5 separate regions of the Homo sapiens genome follow, and regions 1, 2, 3 and 5 are each reported to be linked to region 4. Evidence: microRNA targets listed by miRTarBase, many of them from high-throughput screens and not tested one by one. Region 4 holds a microRNA gene; each other region holds the end of a gene's coding sequence. Distances are from middle to middle.
Evidence for each region. The annotated mature microRNA hsa-miR-28-5p reads AAGGAGCUCACAGUCUAUUGAG and lies in region 4 at 2,227-2,248, shown strand. An mRNA with a match to its seed (bases 2 to 7 or 8) in the 3' UTR can be bound and repressed. Matches are read on the target gene's strand: a 7mer-m8 pairs with bases 2 to 8, a 7mer-A1 pairs with bases 2 to 7 and ends in A, and an 8mer does both.

Region 1: the mRNA of TMED4 is a reported target of hsa-miR-28-5p. Seed matches in the 3' UTR shown: 8mer at 1,808-1,815.
Region 2: miRTarBase lists CD276 as a target of hsa-miR-28-5p. Seed matches in the 3' UTR shown: 8mer at 434-441 and 7mer-m8 at 1,787-1,793.
Region 3: miRTarBase lists MYH15 as a target of hsa-miR-28-5p. Seed matches in the 3' UTR shown: 7mer-m8 at 2,005-2,011.
Region 5: miRTarBase lists MSI2 as a target of hsa-miR-28-5p. The part of its 3' UTR that is shown has no 7-base or 8-base seed match.

The regions. Positions count from the first base shown.
Region 1 is chr7:44,576,770-44,579,903 of GRCh38, forward strand. It overlaps TMED4 (transmembrane p24 trafficking protein 4), which reads right to left. Exons shown (of 5, transcript NM_182547.4): 5 at 1,125-2,859. The coding sequence ends at 2,710. Among named protein-coding and RNA genes, the nearest start is that of TMED4, 3.9 kb to the right of the region's middle.
Region 2 is chr15:73,712,558-73,715,691 of GRCh38, forward strand. It overlaps CD276 (CD276 molecule), which reads left to right. Exons shown (of 10, transcript NM_001024736.2): 10 at 377-1,957. The coding sequence ends at 399. Among named protein-coding and RNA genes, the nearest start is that of CD276, 30 kb to the left of the region's middle.
Region 3 is chr3:108,378,657-108,381,790 of GRCh38, forward strand. MYH15 (myosin heavy chain 15) reads right to left here. Exons shown (of 41, transcript NM_014981.3): 41 at 1,712-2,903. The coding sequence ends at 2,889. LOC124900545 (a long non-coding RNA gene) reads left to right here and starts at 2,884. Exons shown (of 2, transcript XR_007095998.1): 1 at 2,884-2,995.
Region 4 is chr3:188,686,568-188,689,701 of GRCh38, forward strand. It overlaps MIR28 (microRNA 28), which reads left to right and starts at 2,214; the gene lies at 2,214-2,299. The region is part of intron 7 of LPP (LIM domain containing preferred translocation partner in lipoma); the gene reads left to right.
Region 5 is chr17:57,676,580-57,679,713 of GRCh38, forward strand. MSI2 (musashi RNA binding protein 2) reads left to right here. Exons shown (of 14, transcript NM_138962.4): 13 at 408-480; 14 at 2,970-3,134. The coding sequence ends at 449. Among named protein-coding and RNA genes, the nearest start is that of CCDC182, 67 kb to the right of the region's middle. RefSeq lists an enhancer at 1-132.

The sequences.
Region 1 (3,134 bases), not on the chromosome of region 4:
TGGTCTCAAACTGCTGACCTCAGGCGATCCCCCTGCCTTGGCCTCCCAAAGTGCTGGGATTATAGGCGTGAGCCACCCCACCTGGCCCTAAATTGCATTTTTTTTTTTGTTTTTTTTTTTCAGATGGGATCACTGTTGCCCAGACTGGAGTGCAGTGGCACGATCATGGCTCACCGCAGCCTTGACCTCCCGGGCTCAAGTGATCTTTCCACCTCAGCCTCTCAAGTAGCTGGGACTATAGGCATGTGCCACCAGCTAAATTTTTTGTATTTTTTGCAGAGACAAGATTTCGCCATGTTGCCCAGGCTGGTCTCGAACTCCTGGGCTATAGGGATCCACCCACCTTGGCTTCCCAAAGTGCTAGGATTACAGGCGTGAGCCACCGTGCCCAGCCCACATGTATTTTTAAGAGTAAAAATAGCCAGGCACAGTGGAGTATACCTGTAGTACCAGCTACTTGGGAGGGTAAGGTAGGAGGATCACTTGAACCTGGGAGCTCAAGGTTGCTTTGAGCTGTGATGGCACCACTGCACTCCAGCCTTGGGGACAGAGCAAGACCCCATCACCTGTGCCCGGCCAGCTCACACCTGTAATCCCAGCACTTTGGGAGGCGAGACGGGTCACCTGCGGTCAGGAATTCAAGACCAGCCTGGTCAACATGGTGAAACCCTGTCTCTACTAAAAATACAAAAATTAGCTGGGCATGGTGGCGGGCGCCTATAATCCCAGCTACTCGGGAGTCTGAGGCAGGAGAATCTCTTGAACTCAGGAGGTGGAGGTTGCAGTGAGCCAAGATTGCACCACTGCACTCCAGCCTGGGCGACAGAGTGAGACTCCATCTCAAAAATAAATAAATGAATAAGATAAAATAAAAATACAAAAATTAGCCGGGTGTAGTGGTGGGTGTCTGTAATCCCAGCTACTCAGAAGTTGAGGCAGAACTGCTTGAACCCGGGAGGCAGAGGTTGCAGTGAGCCAAGATCATGCCACTGCACTCCAGCCTGGGCGACAGAGCAAGACTGTCTCAAAAAATAAAATAAATAAAAATTTTAAAAATACATAAATATATATATAAATAGGTACATATATGGTATAGGACATAAGAAATAACAAAAGGAGAAGAATTTAGTTCTGTAGGTCAGATAATTTAATAAATATTTCAAATAAATATATAATAAAAACTGAAATAAAATGTCAAGAATGGGGAACTAATGGTATTAAGTTTTATATAGAAGGGCATGAGGGAAGTGTATTAAAATTTGTTCAAATTTATGACTGAGAGGGCTAAGAAGGTACTTAATTTCCTCAGATGATACTTTGCGAACATGTGGTCTATTTGGTTGACCTTTGCAAATAGTTGAACAACCACACCGTGTATTCCCATACCCCCTAGACTGCCTGTCCAGGCCAAGCCTTAGTACCACGAGTCCACAGTGAAGTCCACTCCAGGTTATCTGCATAGGTAGCCCAGGCACCTTTCCTCTTTTCCTTTAGGTGCCTCCCCTCTACCCACAACCTCTTATTTCATCTCAAACACAGCTATTACAACATGTTTTATTTCACTGGAAAATTCTGTAAAGAACTAAATCTGGTTCCCTTGAAGAAAACATTTAGCACAGCTTAAATAAAAGTTGAGAAGGAGGGTAAGAGTGCATTGCCCCATTCTAGCTCTGTTGCTACCTTACCTCTGACTCTAAGGCCCTGTGGGATGAAAAGCAGGTATCCAAAAGAACTCTGCTTGGCCCTCTGATACGGCCTTGAGGTCAGCCCTGGTGCCTGCTTTCTGGCCCACAGACCGCTGAAATCCTAGGAGCTGCCATGGGAGTTACCAAAAATATGTGAATAAACTGAATGCAGAGGCTGAGGCAGGTGGATCAACTGAGGTCAGGAGTCTAAGACCAGCCTGGCCAACATGGTAAAACCCCATCTCTACTAAAAATACAAAAATTAGCTGAGCGTGGTGGCGGGCACCTGTAATCCCAGCTACTCAGGAGACTGAGGCAGGAGAATCATTTGAACCCGGGAGGCAGATGTTGCCAGTGAGCTGAGATCACGCCATTGCACTCCAGCCTGGGCGACAAGAGCAAAACTCAAAAAAAAAAAAAAAAAAAAAAAAGGAAAAACAAAACCCAGAATGCAGAAACTGCATTGGTATTTTGAGCTAGTTACAGGCAGTAACACTTCTACTAGGAAGGAAAATATATAATTTATCCAAAAATAGTTCTAAGATTTAGAAAAACATCTCAATCCTCTAGGGCCAAGACCTGCCCCTTATTTACATTCACAAAGCCATTAAGTGAACCCAGAACTGACCAGCAGACAGTGAGGCAGGGCCTGCTCTGTGGCACATGCCAGTCACCTACTGCGTAAGTGGACAAAGAGAAAGCAGAAGGTAATGGAGAGAGTTTTCATTTGCTTATTTAGTGAAAAACAGAGGAAAATCACTCGAGGCAAAAGAAGCAGGACTGAGTCCTGGGTTAGTTCTGATTCCTCACAAGCCCTAAGACAAGATTTTGAAAGATTGGACTAATGTCATGTGTCCTTAAGAACCAGGGTCAGCAAGTGGCTGATCTGAATGGTTTGTGGCCATGGAACCAATGTGACTTATTCTTTTTCATTTTTTTCCCTAAAAATCCAGGTGGATAAAGGACTGTGTGGGGAAAGTACCAAATAAATGAGGTAAAAAGGAAGGGTCATACAAAGAGGGCACTACACCAGCTTCTTGGCCTCAAAGAAGCTCTTGAGGTGACGCATCTGCCAGATGCCAGTGAGGATGAGGATGACAGTCTGAGCAATGGACCACCATAGGACCCTCTGGTTGGTGCTCTCGCTCGTCAGTCGGAAGCGCTCTTCACGATACTGTGTGGGGCAACACAGGGTTAAGTGAGCAGGAGAAACAGTCTGGCTGTTGTGAGGTCCCTCCCTGCGTGTAATTACTCAACTCCAGGACCAAACTCCTTTTGGAATACTATCTGTGACTCCATTAGGAGTGCTATGGTCTCCCCACTGAGGCTGCCCCAAGAAAGGGACAGGCTGTCCCTCCACAAGCATCTCTGTTAGGACTGAAATCATGATCCTACCATTTCCAACAAGAGTCCAAGAAAAACAGGTAGGCAATGGCTATTACTAGATTG
Region 2 (3,134 bases), not on the chromosome of region 4:
TGCCTGCTGGACGAGGGAGTTGGGCCAGGCCTTGGAGGGTGGATGGGATGGACAAACAGGAGATGAGAAGGGAAAAGTGTTGCACGTAGAGGGAGAGTGGAGGGAAGTGTATCGGGCTGTGGGCCTGTGGGTACTGAGAGGGGGCTGCGTGAGGTGGTCCCCCTCAGGTGCCCCGGCGTGCCTGGCACCTGCATCTGTGTCTGGGCCTCCAGGGCCGTGGTCAGCACGGGGGCTGTCCGTTGGGCTGCTGTCTCACACACACTCCCCACTTGAAGTCTGACCAGGTGCTTGGGCTTCTGGCATAATCCCAAAAATAGATCTTCTGGCATCTAATGCTTTTCCCTTCCCTTTTTTTTCTTCCCATCATGAAATGAAGATGATGGACAAGAAATAGCCTGACCATGAGGACCAGGGAGCTGCTACCCCTCCCTACAGCTCCTACCCTCTGGCTGCAATGGGGCTGCACTGTGAGCCCTGCCCCCAACAGATGCATCCTGCTCTGACAGGTGGGCTCCTTCTCCAAAGGATGCGATACACAGACCACTGTGCAGCCTTATTTCTCCAATGGACATGATTCCCAAGTCATCCTGCTGCCTTTTTTCTTATAGACACAATGAACAGACCACCCACAACCTTAGTTCTCTAAGTCATCCTGCCTGCTGCCTTATTTCACAGTACATACATTTCTTAGGGACACAGTACACTGACCACATCACCACCCTCTTCTTCCAGTGCTGCGTGGACCATCTGGCTGCCTTTTTTCTCCAAAAGATGCAATATTCAGACTGACTGACCCCCTGCCTTATTTCACCAAAGACACGATGCATAGTCACCCCGGCCTTGTTTCTCCAATGGCCGTGATACACTAGTGATCATGTTCAGCCCTGCTTCCACCTGCATAGAATCTTTTCTTCTCAGACAGGGACAGTGCGGCCTCAACATCTCCTGGAGTCTAGAAGCTGTTTCCTTTCCCCTCCTTCCTCCTCTTGCTCTAGCCTTAATACTGGCCTTTTCCCTCCCTGCCCCAAGTGAAGACAGGGCACTCTGCGCCCACCACATGCACAGCTGTGCATGGAGACCTGCAGGTGCACGTGCTGGAACACGTGTGGTTCCCCCCTGGCCCAGCCTCCTCTGCAGTGCCCCTCTCCCCTGCCCATCCTCCCCACGGAAGCATGTGCTGGTCACACTGGTTCTCCAGGGGTCTGTGATGGGGCCCCTGGGGGTCAGCTTCTGTCCCTCTGCCTTCTCACCTCTTTGTTCCTTTCTTTTCATGTATCCATTCAGTTGATGTTTATTGAGCAACTACAGATGTCAGCACTGTGTTAGGTGCTGGGGGCCCTGCGTGGGAAGATAAAGTTCCTCCCTCAAGGACTCCCCATCCAGCTGGGAGACAGACAACTAACTACACTGCACCCTGCGGTTTGCAGGGGGCTCCTGCCTGGCTCCCTGCTCCACACCTCCTCTGTGGCTCAAGGCTTCCTGGATACCTCACCCCCATCCCACCCATAATTCTTACCCAGAGCATGGGGTTGGGGCGGAAACCTGGAGAGAGGGACATAGCCCCTCGCCACGGCTAGAGAATCTGGTGGTGTCCAAAATGTCTGTCCAGGTGTGGGCAGGTGGGCAGGCACCAAGGCCCTCTGGACCTTTCATAGCAGCAGAAAAGGCAGAGCCTGGGGCAGGGCAGGGCCAGGAATGCTTTGGGGACACCGAGGGGACTGCCCCCCACCCCCACCATGGTGCTATTCTGGGGCTGGGGCAGTCTTTTCCTGGCTTGCCTCTGGCCAGCTCCTGGCCTCTGGTAGAGTGAGACTTCAGACGTTCTGATGCCTTCCGGATGTCATCTCTCCCTGCCCCAGGAATGGAAGATGTGAGGACTTCTAATTTAAATGTGGGACTCGGAGGGATTTTGTAAACTGGGGGTATATTTTGGGGAAAATAAATGTCTTTGTAAAAAGCTTTTTCTCTGTGAAGTGTTTGGAAGCAGGGTGGGCCCCAGGACTCAACCAGCAGGATTCTCTCCTGGATGTTGCAGGCTGGGGTAGGGAAGCCTGGCCCTCCTTATCTCACCGTCCTTAAATCACTGGATCCCCAAGGCCATTTGGCTCCCTCCTTGGCTTCAGTTTCCCTCTGGGTAAAGTGAAGTTGGTTGTCCAGAAAGCCAGGCCCTTTGGTCACTGTATGGGGCTCCTCCCACTGGAAGCATCACTCAATTTCTTTGCCTCAGAAAACTCAAACCTAGGCTTGTTTAGGGCCTCTACTAATGAACCCATTTTAGAGACTGTGAAGCTGAGACCCAGTAAGAAGCTGGCACCAGGAAAAGAGTTCTGAATGCTGTTTCTGGCTGACTCAATTGGATGGGCACCAGGCCAGGGATCAGAGGTCCATTCCCAGGACATAGTTCTGCCCTATGACCCTGAGCAGGACATTTACCTTCTCTGAGCCTTGGCTTTCTTGTACAAAAAATAGCCACCTATGCATAGTGGCTCATGCCTGTAATCCCAACACTTTGGGAGGCTGAGGTGGGAGGATCGCTTAAGGCCAGGATTTCAAGACTAGCCTGGGCAACATAGCAAGACCCTGTCTCTGCACAGAAATAAAAAATTAGCGAGGTGCGGTGGCACCCACCTGTAGTCCTAGTTACTCAGGAGGCTGAGGTGGGAGGATCGCTTAAGGCCAGGATTTCAAGACTAGCCCGGGCAACATAACAAGACCCTGTCTCTGCACAAATAAAAAATTAACTACAGGCACACACCTGTAGTCCTATTACTCAGGAGGCTGAGGTGGGAGAATCACTTGATCTTCAGCCCAGGAGGTCGAAGTTGCCATGAGCTGTAATTGTACCACTGCATTCCAGCCTGGGCAACAGAGCAAGACTCTGTCTCTAAAGAAAAAAAAAAAAGAAAAGAAAAATAGGACTGAGGTTTTAACTACCTTCCATTTTGAAAGACTGAGAGGAGGCGCACAGGCTTCCAGAGAGCCAGATTCAGGGCTATGGGAACCTGCCTAGGATACTGCGTTCGCTTGCCCCTGGATGACAGTGTCCTGGCACTGGGACAGCCTGGAGCTTTGCAGACCCTGGGCAGCAGGAGGAGCCTGTGCTGGGGGTGAGGACACTTGACTTTCAATCCTGG
Region 3 (3,134 bases), 80 Mb from region 4:
TTGTGGTGTAACTGCCACCTGGTCCAATTTTATCTGACCTCAGTTTCACAATCCTCTCCTTGTATGTAGTTAACTCTGTTTTTGCTACAATGTTGTGATGGGTTATCACAAATAGCAAAGTATTAAGAATTCCAGTCAGAATGTTAATTATTAAAAAGTCAAACAATAGATGCTGGCAAGGCTGTGGAGAAACAGGAATGCCTTTACACTCTTGGTGGGAATGTAAATTAGTTCAACCATTGTGGAAGACTGTGTGGCGATTCCTCAAGGATCTAGAAACAGAAATACCATTTGAACCAGCAATCCCATTACTGGGTATATACCCAAAGGATTATAAATCATTCTACTATAAAGACACATGCACATGTATGTTTATTGCACTATTTACAATAGTAAAGACATGGAACCAACCCGAATACCCATCAATGGTAGACTGGATAAAGAAAATGTGATACAAACACCATGGAATACTATGCAGCCATGAAAAGGAATGAGATCATGTCCTTTGCATGGACATGGATGAAGCTGGAAGCCATCATTATCAGCAAACTAACACAGGAACAGAAAACCAAACCACATGTTCTCACTCATAAGTGGGAGCTGAACAAGGAGAACACATGGACACAGGGAGGGGAACAACACACACCAGGGCCTGTTGCAGGGTGGGGGGCGGGGGAGGGAACCTAGAGGACGGTTCAATAGGTACAGCAAACCACCATGGCACACATATACCTATGTAACAAACCTGCATGTTCTGCACGTGTATCCCAGAACTTACTTAAAGTAAATTTTTTTTAAAAAAATAAATATAACTTAGATATCTTTTAAAAAAATTCCATTGTGAAGAAAAACTCCATTGAGATAATATTTGTCTACCATCTCTGCTTCCCCCTAGCCTTGGTTCCTTTTTAAAAATTGTGTCCTAGTGAGAGAACATGATACTTAATAACAAAACTGGATGCATCCCCAAGCTGAAGTTTTACTTTACTGAGTATGTGCCTGGGGTGTGGAGAAACAATAGCATCCTAACTTCAGGATTGGTAATATGACAACAGCAAATTTCTAAGAAAAGGTTTGGGATATAGAGATGTTTCCTGAATATAAACATTGGCTTATTAAAGGATAATTCCAAACATTTTTTACTGAAGTTTTAAAAAATTACTATTCCAGGAAAAAAAAAAAACCCTAGAAAAGTTCCATGTTAAATGTTTCATGTTGTTTTCTCATTGCGTTAAGACCGATGGTAAGAAGGAGCGACTGCTTTGGATACAGCCCGACACACATACCTGCTAGTTCACTCTGTGGCTGTGCATCCCTCTCCGCCAACCACAAAACTCAAATTTGGTTCACCTTGCTCAAAATGGTACCCTGATTTTTCAAGAGCATCCACTTTGATCTGTCTGAGCCAACCCTGACAATTGCAGTCCTCTTGCCACTAGACTGGTTCAGCATAAGCAGATAAAGAAATCTGCTCACTAGGGTATGAGGAAAATTATTCCAGAGGTCTGTTTCTGGGAAAGTGTTTCTCCATTTTAAGAAGAGACAGGTTATCGTATGGGGAGAAAATGCTCAGGACTGCTGAAGTCCTCTTACGGCGACAAGAGATTCCGACAAGAATGAACCTGGGTCCTCTGATACCACTGAGTCCCTGAATTAATCGTCAAGCTACCCATATGAGTCAGGGTTGGATCAGGGAGGCAGAATCAGAGAATGACAGAATAAAGATTTATTATAGAGCTTCAGCCTTACACAATTGTGGGTGCTGGTGGAGAAGTCTAGGCCAGGCTGTTCCCTCTGCATCTGGTTCTGGGCCTGAAGTCACTGTAGGTCGACTGTGAATGCAGCAAGGATGAAGGGAAGTCCATAAGAACAAACAGAACCCATGTCTGTCTCACGGCCTCCACTGCAATGCTGTGTGTGATCTCAGGAAAAGCTGATGCTGGTTGCCATGGAGCTGCACACACACCTGGCCAGTACTTTGCAAAGCTGAAGGAGGAGGCTGGCAGGAGCTGGAAGAGCTCTGGGTCCAGGGAGCTGTCTCTGGTCTCTTCTAGCTCCCCTTTTTGGCCTGGAGTCATATTTTCAAGCTGTCACCATGCTTGGGTCTGTACACTGACCTTATGAGTATAAAATAGCTGCTGATCAAATTAATGCAAATTTCTTTATGACCTACTCCAATCCAGAACCATGAGAGAGAGGAATTCCGGGACATGTTCCTCCAGCTGAGCCAAATCGGTACTGCACAAATCCAGCATATTACCTGTCACTGAATGTCTCGTGTGGGGTTACCTCCATGTTTAAAGCATGTACCAGCATATAGCCTACATGTGTGTTGATTAGGAGAGTTTTGCCTACATGTTCAAATTGCCTAACTATAGCTATATTTATATCACAATGCTGAGGAGATCTTATGACTTCCATTCTACCACTGCTGGCTCACAATATACATTCATAGATTTAGGGGTGAATCAAGCCAAAGTTGCCTAACTTTAGTAAAAACCATTCACCAACATGCCCTAGTCCCCATGAAGCGTGACTGGTCTAAGGACATCTTCTATGAGTCCTACCCATTAAGAGGAAATATGGACAAAGGATCAAGTATTTATTCATTTTTTAAACATCAGAATTGAAAAGGTTCTTCCATTTATTTAATCTGTCATGTGAAGCATTAGAAGGTAGTTTACTTGCATTTGAGGATCAAAAAATCCCCATTAACTGTGGAAGCAATGATATTCCCTTTAATTATTTTTCTAATTGCCTTGTTTATATGGTGTGAAAAGCAATTTAAACATGTTTTTAAAAATGTTTCCATGCAACCTAAGTTTTTGGCCATGAAACAGCACCTTCCTTGTACTTCTCCAGCTGTTGTCCTTTCAAAGCAGGGGATGCTATTCTTCTTGAACCTGAAAAACAGAATGTCAGTGTGTTCTGTGAATTTCCTGTGATTTTCACCAGTGGAACACATGTCCAGAACCAAGCTGAGTCCCTTCCAGAGGTAAGCAGGCCTTAGCCAACTCTTCATTAACTTCAAAGGGAGGCAGGGAATTGAGGCAATTATCTGCATTACAGAAAGCAGACCCTGGTAATTCACCCCAAGGGCATGCTCGGTCACTCTCAATTTTCTGCCTGCCTTG
Region 4 (3,134 bases):
CTGTGGCATATTCTAACCATATTCTTCCTAGGCCTCACCCCTAGAGATACTGAATTAATTGTTCTTGTGGGTAGAGTCACTGTTATGCTTTAAGCTTCCCAAGTGATTCTGATGGGCAGCCAAGACTAAGAATCTATGATTTAGATAGAAGATGGGAAGCCGAGGGAGGCCATGGGAAAGCTCTGATGGTGAGTATGGGAAGAATCAACATAAAACAAGCACTCAACAAGTGTGCATCTAGTTGAAGCCTTGCTTCTCCTGCATTTGTTATCTCAGTGTGCTATTTAAAAGCAGCACAAAAAACAAGGAGTGAAGACCTTGATATCAAGGATGTGAAAGCTACTTCTAATCTTCAAACAGATATTAGGCAGGGGCTTTAAGACTTCAACTTGAGAGAAAAGCTAAGGCACCTGGTATGTGTGTGCTCAAGTGAAATATTTGTGCTGACTGAGGGCTTCAATGTCAGGCTGTCTGAAAGGACACAATATCAACAGCTTTGCTGTGCTTGTGTATGAGTCTTTAAATGAATATATCTGGTTATAGCTTATCTCTTTTCTCCATGCTCCCTCATTTCCAATTTCCAGGTAATGGAGATCATCTAGTTCGGTTTCAGCTGCTTTATTTTGCAGATGAGCAAACCCAGTGATGCCTGTGATCTAGATGGAGGCAGATTTCCTCTCTCCCCCACCCTGGTATACCATAGTCTGTTCTAATGCTGGGATCAAGGATGAAAGTGCTAATTTGGGAGTGTCCCCCACTTTCTTACTAGCTGATATGGTTTGGCTTTGTCCCTACCCAAACCTCATCTTGAATTGTGATCCCCACATGTCAAGGGAGGGAGGTGATTGGATCGTGGGGGCCCTTCCCCCATGCTGTTCTCTTCATAGTGAGGGAGTTCTTATGAGATCTGAGATTTTTAAGGCAGTTTTCCTTGCTCTTGCTCGCTTCTCCCTCTGCTGCCACCTTGTGAAGAAGGTGCCTGCTTCCCCTTCTGCCATGATTTTAAGTTTCCTGAGGCCTCCTCTGCCATGCGGAACTGTGAGTCAGTTAAACCTCTTTAGAAATTACCCATTCTCAGGGAAGTTTTTTATAGCAGTGTGAAAATGGAGTAATTCAATGACCCTTTCTTACTGACTCATTGGTCTGATTTCTTGACCAAAGCTCTGAATATTCCCATGTCATCCTGTCTAACCAGCTGTCTTATACTCTTTTTTTTTTTTTTTTTGAGATGAAGTCTCGCTCTGTCGCCCAGGCTGGGGTGCAGTGGCACGATCTCGGCTCACTGCAACCTCCACCTCCCGGGTTCATGCCATTCTCCTGCCTCAGCCTCCCGAGTAGCTGGGACTACAGGCGCCCATCACCATGCCTGGCTAATTTTTTTGTATTTTTAGTAGAGACGGGGTTTCACCACGTTATCTTATTCTTAACAGTGTCTGAGGTATTTTTTTGAAACACAATTCTTACCTTAACTGCCCCAGGCACCACGGCAGAAGAACCATGACCTTGCTGAGAGGCACTGCATGCCAAATGAGACTTAGTTTTTCCAAAGTACTTGGGAGAAGAAAAACAATAATCTATATGATGGGCTTTTGGCCTAAACCCATATCCTTTAGATGACGGAATTTGGCACAGCTCATATTCTGGTTTAAAGAAAAATGTTTTGTTATGATGTCATTTGCCTAATTAATAGCAAAAGAGGATTGAATTTTCCCTATGCAATGTCATCTAGCCTTTGAGATTTTAGAGTTAATGACTCAAATCAATTGTCCTGTCTTCTGTGAAACCTTCCTGATGCCTTCAGTTGGATAAATCTACCCTTGGTGTTCATAAGGCATTATATTGATGCCTCTGATGTTATGCAGATATATCCCTTCTTGGCTTTGTTTGCCCATTCAATGAACATTTGTTGAACACCACCTATATGCCAAGATAGTTGGAAGATGGAAGTGTGGTACACAGAGGATGTGGAAGGGAATCACAGAAGATGAGACTATGAAGGCAGGCCCTTCAAGGACTTTCTAAGTAGTACTCAGGAGTTTGACAAAGAGGAGCTAGAAGAGGTTTGTGAAGTCAGATGAGTAATATAATTAGGTTTGTATTTTATGAAGGGCAACATCTAAATATGGCTTGTCTATTCAGCAAGCACTTATTAAGTGCCTTTTGCATGGTAGACAACATGCTTGATGCTGAAGATACAAGAAAAAATTTAAAATGGTCCTTGCCCTCAAGGAGCTCACAGTCTATTGAGTTACCTTTCTGACTTTCCCACTAGATTGTGAGCTCCTGGAGGGCAGGCACTTTCGTTCATCTGAAAAAGAGCTTAAATTTCAGTGTTAATCCTAGATTACAATCCCGCCTCTATTATTTTAACTTTGTTCACATCTGTTAACTGCTCTGAAAATCAGAGCTAATACTGCCTACCTCATCAGGGAAAGATTAAACGAGAAAAGAATGAGATGTGATTGACACAGCAGGAGCTCTGTGTATGCTATTTCCTCCTCTATCTCTGTGCCTGGTACATGGTAAACATTCAGGACACTTCTGCTGCCTGCTTGGCTGGAGAGCCTGTCTATGCAGCCTCAGTGTTGGGAGGATTTGAGCCTGGGGTCGGCCTGGCACCCAGCTATGGTAGTTAGCAAATCTATCCTCAGCTCAGTCAGTGATCAAATCACTGGCTCTAGGCTGTAAACTAACAGGGCCAGAATTGGGTTCTGGACTCTGAAGCCCAGGCATGCATATTGCAAAAGTCAGAATCGAAGTCATAGGAAAATGATGAAATTTCCTTTCTGGCCAGAATGCTATTATTTCACCAAGGGCAACAAATCTTCTTGGCAGGAAAAGTTGACTTGCTTGTGCTTTGTGTAATCAATTGTATTTGCAAGTGATGGAGTCCTTCTCACAGTGGCTTAGAGGAGGTGTTAACCACTATTCTACTCTCTACTTCCATGAGATCAACTTTTTTAGATTCCACACTTGAGTGAGATCATGCAATATTTATCTTTCTGTGCCTGGCTTATTTCACTCAACATAATGTCCTCCAGGTTTGTTTGACATTTCATTGTTTTCGGAGAATTTTCACAGTTCATTATCTCACTTCACAGTTCCTAATAGTCTCTCTGAGGTCCATATGGTAA
Region 5 (3,134 bases), not on the chromosome of region 4:
AATAACCAGAAAGCATCCCAGTTTGTCTGCACTGGGATTTCTTCTCCCCAGCTAGAGCCGTTGGGACTGCGGACAGAGACTTATCTTTGCACTCTGGGGTTCAGGGCAACATGCCCATCACTGGGGGCACAAACCCCCGTTTCCCACCATCCACCCACGCCTCTGAATCTGGCTTTTGGTTTCCCCCGGGGTAAGCAGATAGGCTTGGTAGGGGCGGAGGGAGTGGGGACTAGGGATTTGGAGCTGAGGAGGATGTCATCCTGGCCCCTCATGGCACGGTGTCTCAGAATTACATATTCATGCTGGCAACCACAGAACTAGTCCTAGAGATAATTTCCTTTCCCAGAATATGACAATCTGTTCCCATGTATAGCACACTGATGACCTTAACAATTGTGCAATTTTAGGGACCTTTGATTGCAACGGCCTTTACAAATGGATACCATTGAGCAGGTGCTTTCGTTGCCATCTCACTCTGAGGTATTACCGTCTCTGCCATGTGTCTCTGCCCTGCCGGTGTGTCCGTACATGTATGTCCACAGGTCATACATGCACGTGCGTGCCCCTGTCTCATCACATCCACATCTCTCTCTCCTCTTTCTGGACCCCTTTTCAGGAGGGTGGGGGCAAAAGCAAATCCAGTCGTTTAATCTCTCATCTCTTCCTCCAGCTTTTAATCATGACCCCCACCTTTTTGACTCTCTCTCTTTTTTTCTTGATTTGGTTCTTTGGATTCTTTTTCTGTATCTTCCCCACCCTTCATCTTTCTCTGTCTTGAAATACAATCAAGAGTGTGGGAAACTGGAAGGAGATCTCGTGCTGTGCCCGTCCCAGGGGGATAGAGGCAGGGAAGCATTGGGCTTCTGCTAGGCCTGGAAGCAGGGATGGGGGCCAGGGCCACCCACTCCTGGAGGTCCTTTGAGCTGGCCCTGTGGGTTGCTGGGCCCCTTCAGCTCCCCAGGCCTTGCTGGGGCTCAGCCAATGGGGTTCATGCAGTCAAACAGCCAGACTCCATCTTTTAGTGAAAAGAAAACGTTTTTGCCAGTAACTACTGAGTAATTATCCAGATTACTGCACGAAAAGCAAATTAAATTAACGACATCACCTGTGTAACATGGATTTGGATCCCTGCCAGTTTCCTAACCTTTTAAACTGAGCTCAAGTTAATTAAACATTTTTTCAATCACTTTGATGGGGATATGGGGGAGGACGGAAGAGAGGAGAGGGAGGTTGGGGCAGTGAGGAAGCCCCTTGCCACACACTCCTTTGGAAATGAGTATCTGTCCTTCTTGGGAAGAACACCAGCAAGGGAGAGGGGTTGTCCTTGTGAAAGCGCTAGATGTGTACTGTGTTAGCACGTTAAGTTTGTGAGGTTGGAACATGGATCTGTCTCTGGAAAAGAGAGGGTGACAGCTGAGGCCAGGGAATGGATTCCACTCGGAAAATCCCACAGAGGCACCAAAGCCTTTCAATCTTGGAGTTGGGATGTAGGAGAAGCAAGGCTGGAGATGAACTGGCCACTTTGGGCTTGCACTTCATTGGATGCCTCTCTCGTAGAGAGGGATTGCTCCTGGCTCCTGAGTCGGACCAGGTGGAGAACTGGGTTGAGTTGAGCTCCATAAATCTCTTGGATTTCTCTAATGTTGCTGCTAAGGGATCACCTCAACTAACGCAACTGCCTCTCTTAACCAAATAAACCATGTGTGTGAATTCTCCCACCCCTCGCCTCCACTTCCCCTTGAGCACTGACCCAGCCATTGCTGGCCAGAGCCAGAGGCCACTAACAGTTTGAAGGAAAGCTACTTGCTACTAATTAAGCTGGGTTTGGGGACCCAGAGGAAGTAAGGTTTCTCTGAGAACAGGGACAACTGGTATCACCAAGAACTCTGGAGACTGAAGATGGCTCCAGCCCTTTGTGGAGTCAGATGAAGAGGGGGTTAAACAACTACCAGGCACAGCAGACCCTTGAAAGGCCAGACACTGGGGCTGCCTGTGCTCCCTCCCTCCCTCCCCTGGAAGAGAAGGAGTGGTGCAGGGCTTCCTGCCCACAGCTCCATATAACCCCAAGGCCACTAAAGCCTTTCCATAGGGGTGGGGTGGGGTGGAATGGGATGGGGGAGGCTGCTACCAGCCCATCCTCCCTCATCTAAGTCTAGGACTCAATTTCCAGAGAAGGATGAAGTAACCAAGAGTGTGGTAGCAACTCACCCCCTTCCAAAATGGATTAGGTGAGCTCATAGAGTCAGATGGCTGCACCCGCAGCACTTAGGAAGGACTGGTCAAACACACCCATTGTCCCCAACCCTCTGACATTCAGCGCCATCCACAAAAGAGGAGCCCAGGCCCCCTACTCCCAGTCAATTCAGGGAGACTCAGTAAACACATCTGTGAATCCTGGGCCTGTTTTTGTTTCCTGTAACCAAAGCCGGTTATTTGTTGTATATTTTTAGTGTCATGACCTTTAGTTTTTGGTATATGATATGATCTTTTAGTGTAAGTTTGCATTTAAAAGTTATCGATGGGTATCTAATAAAGGCAAGTTTGTGGGGTTTTTTTTGTTTGTTTGTTTGTTTTTTTAACATTTAGCTTTGAAAACAGAAGTTTAAACAGAAAAAAGGTATCTCAGGTCAATGGGCAGTTTGCCCACCTGGCTGCAATCCCTGTAAGCACATTTCCCACCACTACCTCAACAACCCTATGGTACTATATCAAATCAGCAAAAGAATTGAAGCCTTGTCCTCTCCCCAGTGTCAGGTATGGTTTAGATGTCAGATTTCCCAACCTGTGATCTCAGTAAGCTTCTAGCCAGGTGATTCTCGTGCGTATTCAATAGTCCAGTGAAGTCCATCTTTGAAACTCTAGTTAAAACAGTGGAGGAAATCGCATACTTGTCTGACACTTCTTTCTCCTCCCCTCTCCCCTCCATTTTATGTTTTCTTCTGGACATCCTGGCCTTCCCTGCCCTGCAGAGCATACCTGGATGTCCAGGCAAGACTGGGCGAAGTTTCTGAGTGGCCCTTTGTTTAGGTGATGTCCTCAGACCTGGACCCCCACCAGCCTCACTCCCCATCCCAACCAGAGATGGCTCACTTCGGATCGAGGGTTGACTACATCTCATCATCTCACGAATCTGC